Regions from separate parts of the Homo sapiens genome. Here region 1 is linked to region 2. A link means that fine-mapping ties the variant in region 2 to the expression of a gene that starts in the linked region. Tissue or cell type: tibial nerve. Region 2 holds a variant in brackets; the other region holds the start of a gene. All regions are shown on one strand. Distances are between the middles of the regions.

Region 1 (8,125 bases), 940 kb after region 2:
GAGACATGGAAAGGAAACCGAAAGGACGACCCAGACACGGGAAAAGTCACCAATGGGACCAGCCCGATGCTGCAATTGCTAGACAAAGACGTTCAGTCAGCTCATTTAAATATGTTCAAAGACCTAAAACATGCTGCATCTGAGGCTGCACCGGCTGGAACCTGCTGATCTCGGAAGCTAAGCATGGTCAGGCCTGGCTAGTACTTCAAAGGGAGAAACCACGTGTAGGCCTGGTGCAGTGGCTCACACCTATAATCCTAGCACTCTGGGAAGCTGAGGCCCGTGGATTGCTTGAGCCCAGGAGTTTGAGAGCAGCTTGGGAAATGTGGTGAGACCCCCATCTCTACAAAAAAATTTAAAAAATTAGCTGGCTGCCTATGGTCCCAGCCTCTCAGGATGCTGAGGTAGGAGGATCACTTCAGCCCAGGAAGTTGAGGCTGCAGTGAGCCATGACTGCATCACTGCACTCCAGCTTGGGCGACAGAGAGACCCTCTCCCAAGAAAAAGAAAAGAACCATGTCAAAAGAACTAACGAAAGTGTGGGAACAATGTCTCACCAATTAGAGAATATCAATAATGGGATGAACCTTATAAAAAGGGGCTGGGCATGGTGGCTCATGCCTATAATCCCAGCACTTTGGGAGGCTGAGGCGGGCATATCATGAGGTCAAGAGATTGAGACCAGCCTGGCCAACATGGTGAAACCCCGTCTCTACTTAAAATACAAAAATTAGCCGGGCGTGGTGGCACGTGCCTGTAATCCCAGCTACTCGGGAGGCTGAGGCAGGAGAATCGCTTGAACCCGAGAGGCAGAGATTGCAGTGAGCCGAGATTGCACCACTGCACTACAGCCTGGGTGACAGAGCGATACTCCAAAAAACAAAACAAAACAAAAAACAAAAAAAAAGTTTAAAAAGGAACCAAATAAAAATTCTGGAGTTGTAGGGTAAAATAAATGAAAATTCATCCCAGGGGCCCAAGAGCAGATTGGAACAATTGGAAGAAAGAGCCTGTGACTATGGAGAGAGGCCACCTGAGGTAGTACCCTCTGAGGAACAGGAACAAGCATGAAGAGCAATGCACAGAGATCCAGAGACCTGGAGACGCCGTCAAGCTTTCCGACATACACGCAATGGGAGTCCCAGGAAAGAAGACAGGGAGAAAGGAGTAAAGGAATAGTTGAAGAATTAATGGCTGAAAAACCTCCCAAATCTGATGAAAAATATTAATCTGTACATCCAAAAAGCTCATCAAACTCCAAGTAGGGTAAACTCAAAGAGATCTTCAGCCATACGCATCATCATAATCACTGTCAAAAGACAGATTTTTCTTTTTTTAGAATTTTAAATGTACCTTTTAATTTGCTCCTGGGGCAAAGAGCCAGGACTGGTACTAGAGCAGTGTCTGGGATGAGAAGAATTTAATAAAATGGGATTAGGTCCAATGGTTGGGTTAGGGGAGGCAACCTGCTCGGGAGGATCAGCCTCAACCTATCCATGCAGCAGGGCCTCCACCTGTCCCTCTCCGTAGTCCCACACCTGGAACCCAGAGCCATCTGCCTCTTCCCAGATCATGGCCGACAGCACTCCACCAGACTGCGGCTGGAGCAGGCACAGGATTCACTTATTGAGGGCTGTGGCCTGGCACAGATCATAGCCTATACCCAGGGACAGTTGTGTCACTTCTGCCACCACCACATCCGCCTTCTGCAGCCACATCAAGTACCACTCATGGATGAGCCCGTCACCCCCAGCGGACTTATCAACCCCGCGTCCAGCTCCACAGCCGCCACGTGCTCGGTGAGCACTGGCTCCAAGCATGGCAGCTGCCATACAATCCACCTGTAGAGGGCCCGGTCCTCCTGTCCTCAGTGGATGATCCCGTAGAAGTCCAGAGCTCGGCAGCTGCCCTCCCACAAAAGACAGGATTTTGAAAGCAGCAAGAGAGAAGAGACGTATCAGGTAGTCACAGTGGCTCAGGCCTGTAATCCCAGCACTTTGGGAGGCCCAGGTGGGAGGATCGCTTCACCCCAGGAATTCAAGACCAGCCTGGACAACTTGGAAGAACCCGGTCTCTACAAAAAATACAAAATTAGCTGGGATTGGGTGCGGTGGCTCATGCCTATAATCCCAGCACTTTGGGAGCCTGAGGTGGGTGGATCACCTGAAGTCAGGAGTTCAAGACTAGCCTGGCCAACATGGTGAAACCCTATCTCTACTGAAAATACAAAAAGCTAGACGTGGTGGCACACACCTGTAATCCCAGCTACTTAGGAGGCTGAGGCAGGAGAATTGCTTGAAGCCTAGAGGTGAAGGTTGTAGTGAGCCGAGATTGCATCATTGCACAATGGAGGGGAGCCACCAGCCTGGGCAACAAGAGGAAATCTCCGTCTCCAAAAAAAAAAAAAAAAAAAAAAGAATTAGGCTGGGTGGTGCCTGTAGTCCCAGCTACTTGGGAGGCAGGGGGTCCACTTGATGTCGAGACTGCAGTGAGCCATGATCCTGCCACTGCACTCCGGCCTGGGCAACAGAGTGAGACCCTGTCTAAAGAAAAAAAAAATAAAGCAACATATCCTGAACAAAGGATCCTCCATAACGTTCCCACCAGATTTCTAATCAGAAACATGGAGGCCAGAAAGCAGTGGAGGAGGACGACCCTCAGGCAGCCCGGGAGGATGTTGTCACAGGCTGGGGCAAGGGCCTTCCGGCTACCAACTGGGAGCTCTGGGAACAGCCCTGTTGCAAACAAGAAGCCATAGCCCGGCCAGAGCCCAGGAATGTGGGCTGGGCTGGGAGCAGCCTCTGGACAGGAGTGGTCCCATCCAGGAAACCTCCGGCATGGCTGGGAAGTGGGGTACTTGGTGCCGGGTCTGTATGTGTGTGTGACTGGTGTGTGTGAGAGAGAATGTGTGCCCTAAGTGTCAGTGTGAGTCTGTGTATGTGTGAATATTGTCTTTGTGTGGGTGATTTTCTGCGTGTGTAATCGTGTCCCTGCAAGTGTGAACAAGTGGACAAGTGTCTGGGAGTGGACAAGAGATCTGTGCACCATCAGGTGTGTGCATAGCGTCTGTGCATGTCAAGAGTGCAAGGTGAAGTGAAGGGACCAGGCCCATGATGCCACTCATCATCAGGAGCTCTAAGGCCCCAGGTAAGTGCCAGTGACAGATAAGGGTGCTGAAGGTCACTCTGGAGTGGGCAGGTGGGGGTAGGGAAAGGGCAAGGCCATGTTCTGGAGGAGGGGTTGTGACTACATTAGGGTGTATGAGCCTAGCTGGGAGGTGGATGGCCGGGTCCACTGAAACCCTGGTTATCCCAGAAGGCTTTGCAGGCTTCAGGAGCTTGGAGTGGGGAGAGGGGGTGACTTCTCCGACCAGGCCCCTCCACCGGCCTACCCTGGGTAAGGGCCTGGAGCAGGAAGCAGGGGCAAGAACCTCTGGAGCAGCCCATACCCGCCCTGGCCTGACTCTGCCACTGGCAGCACAGTCAACACAGCAGGTTCACTCACAGCAGAGGGCAAAGGCCATCATCAGCTCCCTTTATAAGGGAAGGGTCACGCGCTCGGTGTGCTGAGAGTGTCCTGCCTGGTCCTCTGTGCCTGGTGGGGTGGGGGTGCCAGGTGTGTCCAGAGGAGCCCATTTGGTAGTGAGGCAGGTATGGGGCTAGAAGCACTGGTGCCCCTGGCCGTGATAGTGGCCATCTTCCTGCTCCTGGTGGACCTGATGCACCGGCGCCAACGCTGGGCTGCACGCTACCCACCAGGCCCCCTGCCACTGCCCGGGCTGGGCAACCTGCTGCATGTGGACTTCCAGAACACACCATACTGCTTCGACCAGGTGAGGGAGGAGGTCCTGGAGGGCGGCAGAGGTGCTGAGGCTCCCCTACCAGAAGCAAACATGGATGGTGGGTGAAACCACAGGCTGGACCAGAAGCCAGGCTGAGAAGGGGAAGCAGGTTTGGGGGACGTCCTGGAGAAGGGCATTTATACATGGCATGAAGGACTGGATTTTCCAAAGGCCAAGGAAGAGTAGGGCAAGGGCCTGGAGGTGGAGCTGGACTTGGCAGTGGGCATGCAAGCCCATTGGGCAACATATGTTATGGAGTACAAAGTCCCTTCTGCTGACACCAGAAGGAAAGGCCTTGGGAATGGAAGATGAGTTAGTCCTGAGTGCCGTTTAAATCACGAAATCGAGGATGAAGGGGGTGCAGTGACCCGGTTCAAACCTTTTGCACTGTGGGTCCTCGGGCCTCACTGCTCACCGGCATGGACCATCATCTGGGAATGGGATGCTAACTGGGGCCTCTCGGCAATTTTGGTGACTCTTGCAAGGTCATACCTGGGTGACGCATCCAAACTGAGTTCCTCCATCACAGAAGGTGTGACCCCCACCCCCGCCCCACGATCAGGAGGCTGGGTCTCCTCCTTCCACCTGCTCACTCCTGGTAGCCCCGGGGGTCGTCCAAGGTTCAAATAGGACTAGGACCTGTAGTCTGGGGTGATCCTGGCTTGACAAGAGGCCCTGACCCTCCCTCTGCAGTTGCGGCGCCGCTTCGGGGACGTGTTCAGCCTGCAGCTGGCCTGGACGCCGGTGGTCGTGCTCAATGGGCTGGCGGCCGTGCGCGAGGCGCTGGTGACCCACGGCGAGGACACCGCCGACCGCCCGCCTGTGCCCATCACCCAGATCCTGGGTTTCGGGCCGCGTTCCCAAGGCAAGCAGCGGTGGGGACAGAGACAGATTTCCGTGGGACCCGGGTGGGTGATGACCGTAGTCCGAGCTGGGCAGAGAGGGCGCGGGGTCGTGGACATGAAACAGGCCAGCGAGTGGGGACAGCGGGCCAAGAAACCACCTGCACTAGGGAGGTGTGAGCATGGGGACGAGGGCGGGGCTTGTGACGAGTGGGCGGGGCCACTGCCGAGACCTGGCAGGAGCCCAATGGGTGAGGCTGGCGCATTTCCCAGCTGGAATCCGGTGTCGAAGTGGGGGGCGGGGACCGCACCTGTGCTGTAAGCTCAGTGTGGGTGGCGCGGGGCCCGCGGGGTCTTCCCTGAGTGCAAAGGCGGTCAGGGTGGGCAGAGACGAGGTGGGGCAAAGCCCTGCCCCAGCCAAGGGAGCAAGGTGGATGCACAAAGAGTGGGCCCTGTGACCAGCTGGACAGAGCCAGGGACTGCGGGAGACCAGGGGGAGCATAGGGTTGGAGTGGGTGGTGGATGGTGGGGCTAATGCCTTCATGGCCACGCGCACGTGCCCGTCCCACCCCCAGGGGTGTTCCTGGCGCGCTATGGGCCCGCGTGGCGCGAGCAGAGGCGCTTCTCCGTGTCCACCTTGCGCAACTTGGGCCTGGGCAAGAAGTCGCTGGAGCAGTGGGTGACCGAGGAGGCCGCCTGCCTTTGTGCCGCCTTCGCCAACCACTCCGGTGGGTGATGGGCAGAAGGGCACAAAGCGGGAACTGGGAAGGCGGGGGACGGGGAAGGCGACCCCTTACCCGCATCTCCCACCCCCAGGACGCCCCTTTCGCCCCAACGGTCTCTTGGACAAAGCCGTGAGCAACGTGATCGCCTCCCTCACCTGCGGGCGCCGCTTCGAGTACGACGACCCTCGCTTCCTCAGGCTGCTGGACCTAGCTCAGGAGGGACTGAAGGAGGAGTCGGGCTTTCTGCGCGAGGTGCGGAGCGAGAGACCGAGGAGTCTCTGCAGGGCGAGCTCCCGAGAGGTGCCGGGGCTGGACTGGGGCCTCGGAAGAGCAGGATTTGCATAGATGGGTTTGGGAAAGGACATTCCAGGAGACCCCACTGTAAGAAGGGCCTGGAGGAGGAGGGGACATCTCAGACATGGTCGTGGGAGAGGTGTGCCCGGGTCAGGGGGCACCAGGAGAGGCCAAGGACTCTGTACCTCCTATCCACGTCAGAGATTTCGATTTTAGGTTTCTCCTCTGGGCAAGGAGAGAGGGTGGAGGCTGGCACTTGGGGAGGGACTTGGTGAGGTCAGTGGTAAGGACAGGCAGGCCCTGGGTCTACCTGGAGATGGCTGGGGCCTGAGACTTGTCCAGGTGAACGCAGAGCACAGGAGGGATTGAGACCCCGTTCTGTCTGGTGTAGGTGCTGAATGCTGTCCCCGTCCTCCTGCATATCCCAGCGCTGGCTGGCAAGGTCCTACGCTTCCAAAAGGCTTTCCTGACCCAGCTGGATGAGCTGCTAACTGAGCACAGGATGACCTGGGACCCAGCCCAGCCCCCCCGAGACCTGACTGAGGCCTTCCTGGCAGAGATGGAGAAGGTGAGAGTGGCTGCCACGGTGGGGGGCAAGGGTGGTGGGTTGAGCGTCCCAGGAGGAATGAGGGGAGGCTGGGCAAAAGGTTGGACCAGTGCATCACCCGGCGAGCCGCATCTGGGCTGACAGGTGCAGAATTGGAGGTCATTTGGGGGCTACCCCGTTCTGTCCCGAGTATGCTCTCGGCCCTGCTCAGGCCAAGGGGAACCCTGAGAGCAGCTTCAATGATGAGAACCTGCGCATAGTGGTGGCTGACCTGTTCTCTGCCGGGATGGTGACCACCTCGACCACGCTGGCCTGGGGCCTCCTGCTCATGATCCTACATCCGGATGTGCAGCGTGAGCCCATCTGGGAAACAGTGCAGGGGCCGAGGGAGGAAGGGTACAGGCGGGGGCCCATGAACTTTGCTGGGACACCCGGGGCTCCAAGCACAGGCTTGACCAGGATCCTGTAAGCCTGACCTCCTCCAACATAGGAGGCAAGAAGGAGTGTCAGGGCCGGACCCCCTGGGTGCTGACCCATTGTGGGGACGCATGTCTGTCCAGGCCGTGTCCAACAGGAGATCGACGACGTGATAGGGCAGGTGCGGCGACCAGAGATGGGTGACCAGGCTCACATGCCCTACACCACTGCCGTGATTCATGAGGTGCAGCGCTTTGGGGACATCGTCCCCCTGGGTGTGACCCATATGACATCCCGTGACATCGAAGTACAGGGCTTCCGCATCCCTAAGGTAGGCCTGGCGCCCTCCTCACCCCAGCTCAGCACCAGCACCTGGTGATAGCCCCAGCATGGCTACTGCCAGGTGGGCCCACTCTAGGAACCCTGGCCACCTAGTCCTCAATGCCACCACACTGACTGTCCCCACTTGGGTGGGGGGTCCAGAGTATAGGCAGGGCTGGCCTGTCCATCCAGAGCCCCCGTCTAGTGGGGAGACAAACCAGGACCTGCCAGAATGTTGGAGGACCCAACGCCTGCAGGGAGAGGGGGCAGTGTGGGTGCCTCTGAGAGGTGTGACTGCGCCCTGCTGTGGGGTCGGAGAGGGTACTGTGGAGCTTCTCGGGCGCAGGACTAGTTGACAGAGTCCAGCTGTGTGCCAGGCAGTGTGTGTCCCCCGTGTGTTTGGTGGCAGGGGTCCCAGCATCCTAGAGTCCAGTCCCCACTCTCACCCTGCATCTCCTGCCCAGGGAACGACACTCATCACCAACCTGTCATCGGTGCTGAAGGATGAGGCCGTCTGGGAGAAGCCCTTCCGCTTCCACCCCGAACACTTCCTGGATGCCCAGGGCCACTTTGTGAAGCCGGAGGCCTTCCTGCCTTTCTCAGCAGGTGCCTGTGGGGAGCCCGGCTCCCTGTCCCCTTCCGTGGAGTCTTGCAGGGGTATCACCCAGGAGCCAGGCTCACTGACGCCCCTCCCCTCCCCACAGGCCGCCGTGCATGCCTCGGGGAGCCCCTGGCCCGCATGGAGCTCTTCCTCTTCTTCACCTCCCTGCTGCAGCACTTCAGCTTCTCGGTGCCCACTGGACAGCCCCGGCCCAGCCACCATGGTGTCTTTGCTTTCCTGGTGAGCCCATCCCCCTATGAGCTTTGTGCTGTGCCCCGCTAGAATGGGGTACCTAGTCCCCAGCCTGCTCCCTAGCCAGAGGCTCTAATGTACAATAAAGCAATGTGGTAGTTCCAACTCGGGTCCCCTGCTCACGCCCTCGTTGGGATCATCCTCCTCAGGGCAACCCCACCCCTGCCTCATTCCTGCTTACCCCACCGCCTGGCCGCATTTGAGACAGGGGTACGTTGAGGCTGAGCAGATGTCAGTTACCCTTGCCCATAATCCCATGTCCCCCACTGACCCAACTCTGACTGC
Region 2 (8,000 bases):
CTGGAAACAACTAAATGTTAAACAGTATGGGGGGGTGGGTTAAGTACTTTGAGTGGATTATGGTGCAGCCGTTAAAATAATTATGATGGGCTGGGCACAGCGGCTCATGCCTGTAATCCCAGCACTTTGGGAGGCCAAGGCGGGTGCATCACCTGAGGTCAGGAGTTGGAGACCAGCCTAGCCAACTTGGTGAAACCCCATCACTACAAAAATACAAAAATTATCTGGGTGTGGTGGTGCGCACCTGTAATCCTAGCTGCCCGGGAGGCTGAGGCAGGCAAATGGCCTCAACCTGGGAGGCAGAGGTTGCAGTGAGCTGAAATCACACCACTGCACTCCAGCCTGGGTGACAGAGTGAGACTGTACCTCAAAAAATAAAATAAATAAATAAATAAATAAATAAATAAATAAATAAATAGACCGGGCGCAGTGGCTCACACCTATAATCTCAGCACCTTGGGATGCCCAGGCAGGTGGATCACCTGAGGTCAGGAGTTTGAGACCAGCCTGGCCAACCATGGCCAACATGGTGAAACCCTGTCTCTACTAAAAATACAAAAATTAGCTGGGCTTAGTGGCAGGCGCCTGTAATCCCAGCTACTTGAGAGGCTGAGGCAGGGAGAATTGCTTGAACCCAGGAGGCGGAGGTTGCAGTTAGCTAAGATCGCACCACTGCACTCCAGCCTGGGCGACACAGCAAGACTGTCTCAAAAAAAAAAAAAGAATAATTGCAATGAATTGAAACTTATCATATGTATTTGAATTTATAAGTTCATACAACTGCAAACAGAAAAATACCCCAAAAGCCACATACCCAATTTGTGGCAGATTAAAGATGGCCACAGGCCAGGGCATAGAACTCTTGGGCACAGTGGCTCATGCCTGTAATCCCAGCACCTTGCGAGGAGTTTGAGACCAGCCTGGGCAGTATACTGAGACCCTGTCTCAAAAAAATTAGCTGGGTGGTGGGGTGCCTGGGTGCAGTGACTCATGCCTGTAATCCCAGCCTTTTGGGAGGTGGAGGCAGACAGATCTCTTGAGCCCAGGAGTTTGACACCAGCCTGTGCAAATGGTGAAACCTCATCTCTACAAACAAATACAAAAATTATCCAGGCATAGTGGTTCGTGCCTGTAGCCCCAGCTACTTGAGAGGCTGAGGTGGGAGGCTTGCTTGAGCCCAGGAGGTCAAGACTACAGTGAGCCTTGATTGTGCTACTGCACTCCAGCCTGGGCAACAGAGTGAGACCTTGTCTCTAAAAGAAAGAAAGAAAGAGAGAAAATAAAGATGGTGGCCAGGCGCGGTGGCTCACGCCTGTAATCCCAGCACTTTGGGAGGCCGAGATGGGCGGATCACAAGGTCAGGAGATCGAGACTATCCAGGCTAACACAGTGAAACCTCATCTCTACTAAAAATACAAAAAAATTATCCGGGCGTGGTGGCGAGTGCCGGTAGTCCCAGCTACTCGGGAGGCTGAGACAGGAGAATGGCGTGAACCCGGGAGGCGGAGATTGCAGTGAGCCGAGGTCACGCCACTACACTCCAGCCTGGGCGACAGAGCAAGACTCCGTCTCAAAAAAAAAAAAAAAAAGAAAAAGAAAATAAAGATGGTTGCGAAGTTCTTGCCACTACTTCACTCTAAAGTTGAGGTCTTTGTCCTTTCCTCGTGAAAGACTCTTTGACCACATTGACCAGTGGAATACAGTAAAAATCATACATGCCTGGGCCCAGGCCAATTCCTCTGTTGGAAACATGTGGGTGCCCTGAGCTGTCCTGTGAGAAGGTGCCATCCTGAAGCCCTCGTGCCACAGCGGCCACAGGTAGGTGTTGTACATGGCAGTGCAGCTGTGCCCACCTTCCAGCCTCCAGCTAGGCCTGCCAAGGTGTTAGACATGAAGAAAGCCTTCTGGGACCCCCAGCTCATCCCATCGGCTGGCTCTACACTTCTGAATGACCTCAGTCAGTGCCACAAGGAGAAGTAGAATTGCTCAGCTGAGCCCTGCCCCAATTCTCAGCCTTCCAAAGTGCTGGATTATAGGCCGGCATGGTGGCTCACGCCTGCAATCCTAGCACTGTGGGAAGCCAAGTCGGGCAGATCACCTGAGGTCAGGAGTTTGAGACCAGCCTGGCCAACGTGGCAAAACCCCGTCTCTACTAAAAATATAACAATTAGCGGTGTGTGGTGGTTCATGTCTGTAATCCCAGCTACTCAGGAGGCTGAGGCAGGAGAATGGCTCGAACCTGCGAGGCAGAGGTTGCAGTGAGCCAAGATCGTGCCACTGCACTCCAGCCTGGGCAACAGAGTAAAACTCTATCTCCAAAAACAAATAAACAAAACAAAACAAAACAAAACAAAAGTGCTGGATTACAGACGTGAGCCACTGCGCCCGGCCAGCTCTTTATTTTGAAAAACTGATAAATAAAGGGAAAGAATCAAGCACTGATTCTGTGTTTTGTGTATGAACTGTTCTTGAGGCACCTAGATTGTTGATGAAGGGAAGCTTGTCCCTATAGAAGTATTCCTGCCGTTGCCAAGCACGGTGGCTCACACCTGTAACTGCAGCACTTTGGGAGGCTGAGGCGGCAGGATCAGTTGAATCCAGGAGTTTGAGACCAGCCTGGGCAACATGGCAAATCCCCATCTCTACAAAAAAAATTATAAAAATTTAGCAGGACACGGTGGCCCCTTCCTGTAGTCCCAGCTACTTGGGAAGCTGAGAGAGGAGGATTGCTTGAGCCTGGGAGGCAGAGGTTGCAGTGCGGCGAGATCAAGTCATGACACCCCGGCCTGGGCAACAGAGCGAGACCCTGTCTCAAAAATAAATACATACATACATACATACATATTGCTTTTTTAGTTCTGATAATTATATAAAATAGGATATCACATAATTAAACATGGAGTCTTGAACCGTTAGAGAATCTTACAGAAATGCTTTGGATGAAATAATATGATGTCTGGGAATTGGTTCAGAACATGCCAGTGCTGAGGGGGGTGGAGGTTCAGACTAAACGAGACTGGCCACGTGCCGTTAACTGGTGAAGTGGGGCAATGGGGGTCCCTTAACGCTTTCTCTCTCCTTCTGAGTGTGATGGAGGTTTTCCATAATAAAAAGTCAAAAAAGATTCCCTTTATTCTAGCCATCCTGGAATCCACAGCAACCCTTCGGGGGCTCCGGGCACCCTCTCTAGGGTGGTGCTGTGGGGTGGGGGTAGGCTGGGGGCACAGGGACCACAGTGCAAGAGGCTGGGGCCACTTGCCATGTTTTGTGACTCTGGCTCTGAGCAGGGGCCAGCCCTTCCTCCGTACCCCTTCCCTGCTTCTCTGGGGGTTGGTGAGGACAGGCGTGTGGCGGGGAGACCGTGGCTTTCTCAGAGGCTCAGAAGGAATCTATTTCTCTTTCAACTCTGTCGTCCCCAACTTGCCCCTTCAGCAGACTCTCCAAGAATATCAAATACTGACTCAGGGCCCTTAAATAACCCCTGTGATTTTGTTTTTAAAGGCTCCTTGACCTTCCTGAATTTCGGTACAGATCCTGTTTAAATGAGTTTCCTGACTTCAGAGTCTGAAAAGGGTATATCTTTTATTTGTTGACAGTGTTATCATTAATCCGTGTTATCACTAATCAATAAACATCTATTGAGTGCCTGCTCCGGGCCAGAGAGGGAAACAGCTCAGAATCAGCACAGCTCCTGGCCCTCACACCACTTGGGTCCCGGCCTGTCCCTGGGCACCCATTCTCTGCTGCTGTGGGCCGGGCAACCCCTGGCTCAGGTGCCAGGGGATGTGGGAGTAGTGGTGAAGGGTGCTGAGGGTTCAGGGTGTTTGCGGGGACGGGAACAAAGGACTTCTGCCACACAGACATCACTGCCAAGTGTCTCTCCTGCTCATCTCTTTCAGGATGAGTGTGCAAACCATCCGAAATGTGTTCAGCGTTGAAGCTGGATATCGGCTCTCAGATGACCAAATAGTCAACCATTTTCCAAACCACTATGAACTGACCCGGAAGGACCTGATGGTGAAGAACATCAAAAGATACAGGAAGGAGCTGGAGAAAGAAGGGAGTCCTCTGGCAGAAAAAGATGAAAATGGAAAATACCTCTATCTGGGTTTGTGCGTCTTCCACCGGCTCATGTTTTCAGTAAACAGCTGAATTTTTTCTTTGGGGCGCGAGGCGCTGAGGTGGTGACTGTTGGCTTTGATGCGTGAGCATGTCCATGCGAGTTGTGGTGGCACCTGTTTCATTTCAGGTGTCTCCAGAATGAGGGAGAAGGAGGGGCCTGAGTGTGGCATCCTAGTTTCTGTGAGTGCCTTGGGAATTGCCTGGCATGGCGTTTTTTTTTTTTTTTTTTTGAGACAGAATCTCACTCTGTCATCCAGGCTGGAGTGTAGTGGCGCGATCTCAGCTCACTGCAACCTCCGCCTCCTGAGTTCAAGCAATTCTCCTGCCTCAGCCTCCCAAGTAGCTGGGACTACTGGTGCCCTCTACCATGCCCGACTAATTTTTTTTTTTTTTTTTTTTTTGTATTTTTAGTAGAGATGGGATTTCACCATATTGGCCAGGCTGGTCTCGAACTCCTGACCTTGTGATCCACCCGCTTCTGCCTCCCAAAGTGCTGGGATTATAGACGTGAGCCACCACACCCAGCCAGCATGG[A/G]CTTTGTGTAAGCCAGAGGATGCCCTCAGCGCTCAGCCTGGGGAAATACTTCTTGAGCCACAGGCTGCCACGAGGGCTCATGACTGTGTCTGGCTATACCCAGGGAAGACAGTGTGTCCCTGTCCAAGTCCGGGATAAAAGCTGGACTGAATAGTTTCAGATTTCTTCACAAACCTGGGTAGAATTCTCTATCTGATCTCCCTGGGCCTCAGTTTCCTCGTCTGCTAAATGGGAATTATTACAGGGTTTACAGTAGCTCCCAGGTGGCCGTGGGGATTGAAAAATACAGGTTTGTAAGGTGCTTAGGTAGGCTCTATAAATGTAACTTGTGAGTGTTGCCCAGGGATTGTGCAGCAGAGGCCCTTGTTCTGTTAGCTGCTGGGTTGCGGTGGGGGACACTCAGCCCACAGGCCCTGGAAAGGCAAGGGCAAGATCTTTCTGTTCATGGCCACTGTTGGGCTGGCTGCTTACCAGTGCTGGGTGTCTTTGCCTTGCAGACTTTGTTCCAGTCACCTATATGCTGCCCGCTGACTACAACCTGTTTGTAGAGGAGTTCCGGAAGAGCCCGTCCAGCACCTGGATCATGAAGCCTTGTGGCAAGGCCCAGGGAAAGGGCATCTTCCTTATCAACAAGCTCTCACAGATCAAAAAGTGGTCCCGGGACAGCAAGACATCTTCGTAAGTGTGGGCAGCCACCCACTTTGTGTGCCAGGTCCCAGTTCACCGTTTTATGCTGTTCGCAGTCTTTGTGGGTTTTTGTTTGGTTTTTTTTTGACAGAGTCTCACTCTGTCGCCCAGGCAGGATTACAGTGGCACAATCTCAGCTCACTGCAACCTCCGCCTTCTGGGTTCAAGCGATTCTCCTGCTTCAGCCTCCCGAGTAGTTGGGATTACAGGCATGCGTCACCACGCCCAGCTAATTTTTGTATTTTTTTAATAGAGTTTTTTTTTTTTAAATAGAGATGGGGTTTTGCGGCTGGGCATGGTGGCTCATGCCTGTAATCTCAGCCCTTTGGGAGGCCGAGGTGGGTGGATCATGAGGTCAGGAGATCAAGACCAGCCTGGCCAAGATGGCGAAACTCCATCTCTACTAAAAATACAAAAAAAAAAAAAAAAATTAGCCAGGTGAGGTGGCAGGTGCCTGTAATCCCATCTACTCAGGAGGCTGAGGCAGGAGAATCGCTTGAACCCAGAAGGCAGAGGTTGCAGTGAGCTGAGATCGCGCCATGCACTCCAGCCTGGGTGACAGAGTGAGATTCTGTCTAAAAAAAAGAAAGAGAGAGAGGTGGGGTTTTGCCCTGTTAGCCAGGCTGGTCTCAAACTCCTGACCTCAGGGTGATCCACCCACCTCGGCCTCCCAAAGTGCTGGGATTACAGGCGTGATTCACTGTTCCTGGCCTGTTCTGTGGTCTTTGGCCATGAGCCACACAGCCCATGCTTGCTTTTACAGGCGTGCGTCATCTGTCACGTGGCGTCACGGTGGGGTTCTGTGGTTGTCTTCGTGTGATTAGTCCCAGACTCTGCCCAAGGCAGGCCATGAAGAAGGGTGTAGGTCATGGGCCAGGGCCTGCAGCCACTTTTTGATTACAGGCTGGTGTGAGAACCGCTCAGTCGTGGTGGTTCTGAGGCAGCGAGGCACCTGCCAAAGTCCTGGGACTCGTGGCCCTAGGGTCCTGGGTTTGAAGCCCAGTCTCACACGAAGTGGCTGAGCGTATTTTGTTCTTCAGACTCTCCATGTCTTACATTCTCCATCTGAGTAAACCGGGGACACCAGCAGCACCACTGCCATGGGGTTGTGATGGGGATGGAACGAGTTAACACATGTGAAATATGAAGCATCTGGGAGGAGCCGGGCACAGCCGATGGGCACAGCCGAGCAAGTGGTGGGGCAGTGGCCTCGTGGCAAGCCCAGGGGCCTGGGTCTGCTGGCTTCTCTGTCTTTGTTTTTTCTCAGCTGCTCAGAAGTGCCCGGGGCCCACCGGGGCAAAGCTTCTGTCTGATCCTTTTCCAGTGGGGAGATGACTCACTTGTCAGGAGTTCCCAGGGTGACAGGAGACACCTTCTCATTTTATAGCATGTTTACTTTTTTTTTTTTCTTTTGAGATGGAGTCTCACTCTGTTGCCCAGGCTGGAGTACAGTGGTACAATCTCAGCTCACTGCAACCTCACGCCTCCCAGGTTCAAGCGATCTGCCTACCTCAGCCTCCCAAGTAGCTGGGATCACAGGCACCCACCATGCCTGGCTAATTTTTTTATTTTTAGTAGAGATGGGGTTTTACCATGTTGGCCAGGCTGGTCTCTAACTCTTGACCTCAAGTGATCCACCCACCTTGGCCTCCCAAAGTGCTAGTATTACAGGGGGTGAGCCACTGTGTGTGGCCTAAAAAAAAATTTTTTTTTTTTTAAGACGGGATCATGGCTCACTGCAACCTCAACCTCCTAGGCCCAAGCGATCCTCCCACCTCAGCCTCCTGAGTAGCTGAGACTATAGGTACACACGACCACACCTGGCTAATTTTTCTTTTTTGTAGAGGCAGGGTTTCATCATGTTGCCCAGGTTGATCTCAAATTCCCGGGCTCAAGTGATCTGCCTGCCTCAGCCTCCCAAAGTGCTGGGACTACAGGTGTCAGCCACCATGCCCGGCCATGCTTAAATCTAATTACACTTTGCTAGCCCCCAGATGGCCAGGCCCGAGGAGCATTTCCCTGAGTGGACTCCTGGGGACTGTCCTGCAGCTGCTTGCACTGTCCCCTGGGGCAGGGGGTGTGTCCTCCATGGATACACCCCACCCCCATTTCCTTCCTGATGACCCAGCCCCTCACAGTGAGAGGCCGGGAGCGTGTTGCCAGCTGACGAGATGCACCTTTGGTCTTTACCATCCATTTTTTTTCTAGTAGCTTGATTTTTTTTTTAATTTTTTTTTTTTTTGAGACAGTGTCTCGCTCTGTCTCCCAGGCTGGACTGCAGTGGTGCGATCTCAGCTCACTGCAACCTCCACGTCCCAGGTTCAAGCGATTCTCCTGCCTCAGCCTCCTGAGTAGCTGGGACTACAGGCACCCGCCACCACACCTGGCTAATTTTTGTATTTTTAGTAGAGACAGGGTTTCACCATGTTGGTTAGGCTGGTCTTGAACTCCTGACCTCGTGATCCTCCTGCCTCGGCTTCCCAAAGTGCTGGGATTACAGGCCTCCAGTAGCTTGATTTTTTTAGAGCAGTTTTAGGTTTACTGCACAATTGAAGAAGATACAGAGATTTTTTTTTTCCTATACCCCTTCCCCACACATGCACGGCCTCCCCCCTTATCAGCATCCCCTACCAGAATTGTTAAAGTTAGCAAACTGA

What was found. PIP is the estimated chance that this variant, and not a neighbour inherited with it, causes the effect.
Region 1: it holds the start of CYP2D6, and the variant in region 2 is fine-mapped to the expression of CYP2D6 in tibial nerve (GTEx, PIP above 0.99).

Annotation. Positions count from the first base shown.
Region 1 is chr22:42,126,319-42,134,443 of GRCh38, reverse strand. It overlaps CYP2D6 (cytochrome P450 family 2 subfamily D member 6 (gene/pseudogene)), which reads left to right and starts at 3,634. Exons shown (of 9, transcript NM_000106.6): 1 at 3,634-3,832; 2 at 4,535-4,706; 3 at 5,259-5,411; 4 at 5,500-5,660; 5 at 6,094-6,270; 6 at 6,461-6,602; 7 at 6,810-6,997; 8 at 7,452-7,593; 9 at 7,692-7,945. The coding sequence starts at 3,653. The coding sequence ends at 7,870. RefSeq lists a cis regulatory region at 2,338-2,349 and promoters at 2,043-3,575, 3,162-3,628.
Region 2 is chr22:43,065,744-43,073,743 of GRCh38, reverse strand. TTLL1 (TTL family tubulin polyglutamylase complex subunit L1) reads left to right here. Exons shown (of 11, transcript NM_012263.5): 4 at 3,900-4,108; 5 at 5,154-5,334. Among named protein-coding and RNA genes, the nearest start is that of TTLL1, 20 kb to the left of the region's middle. The variant A/G (reference allele first, on the strand shown) is at 4,657.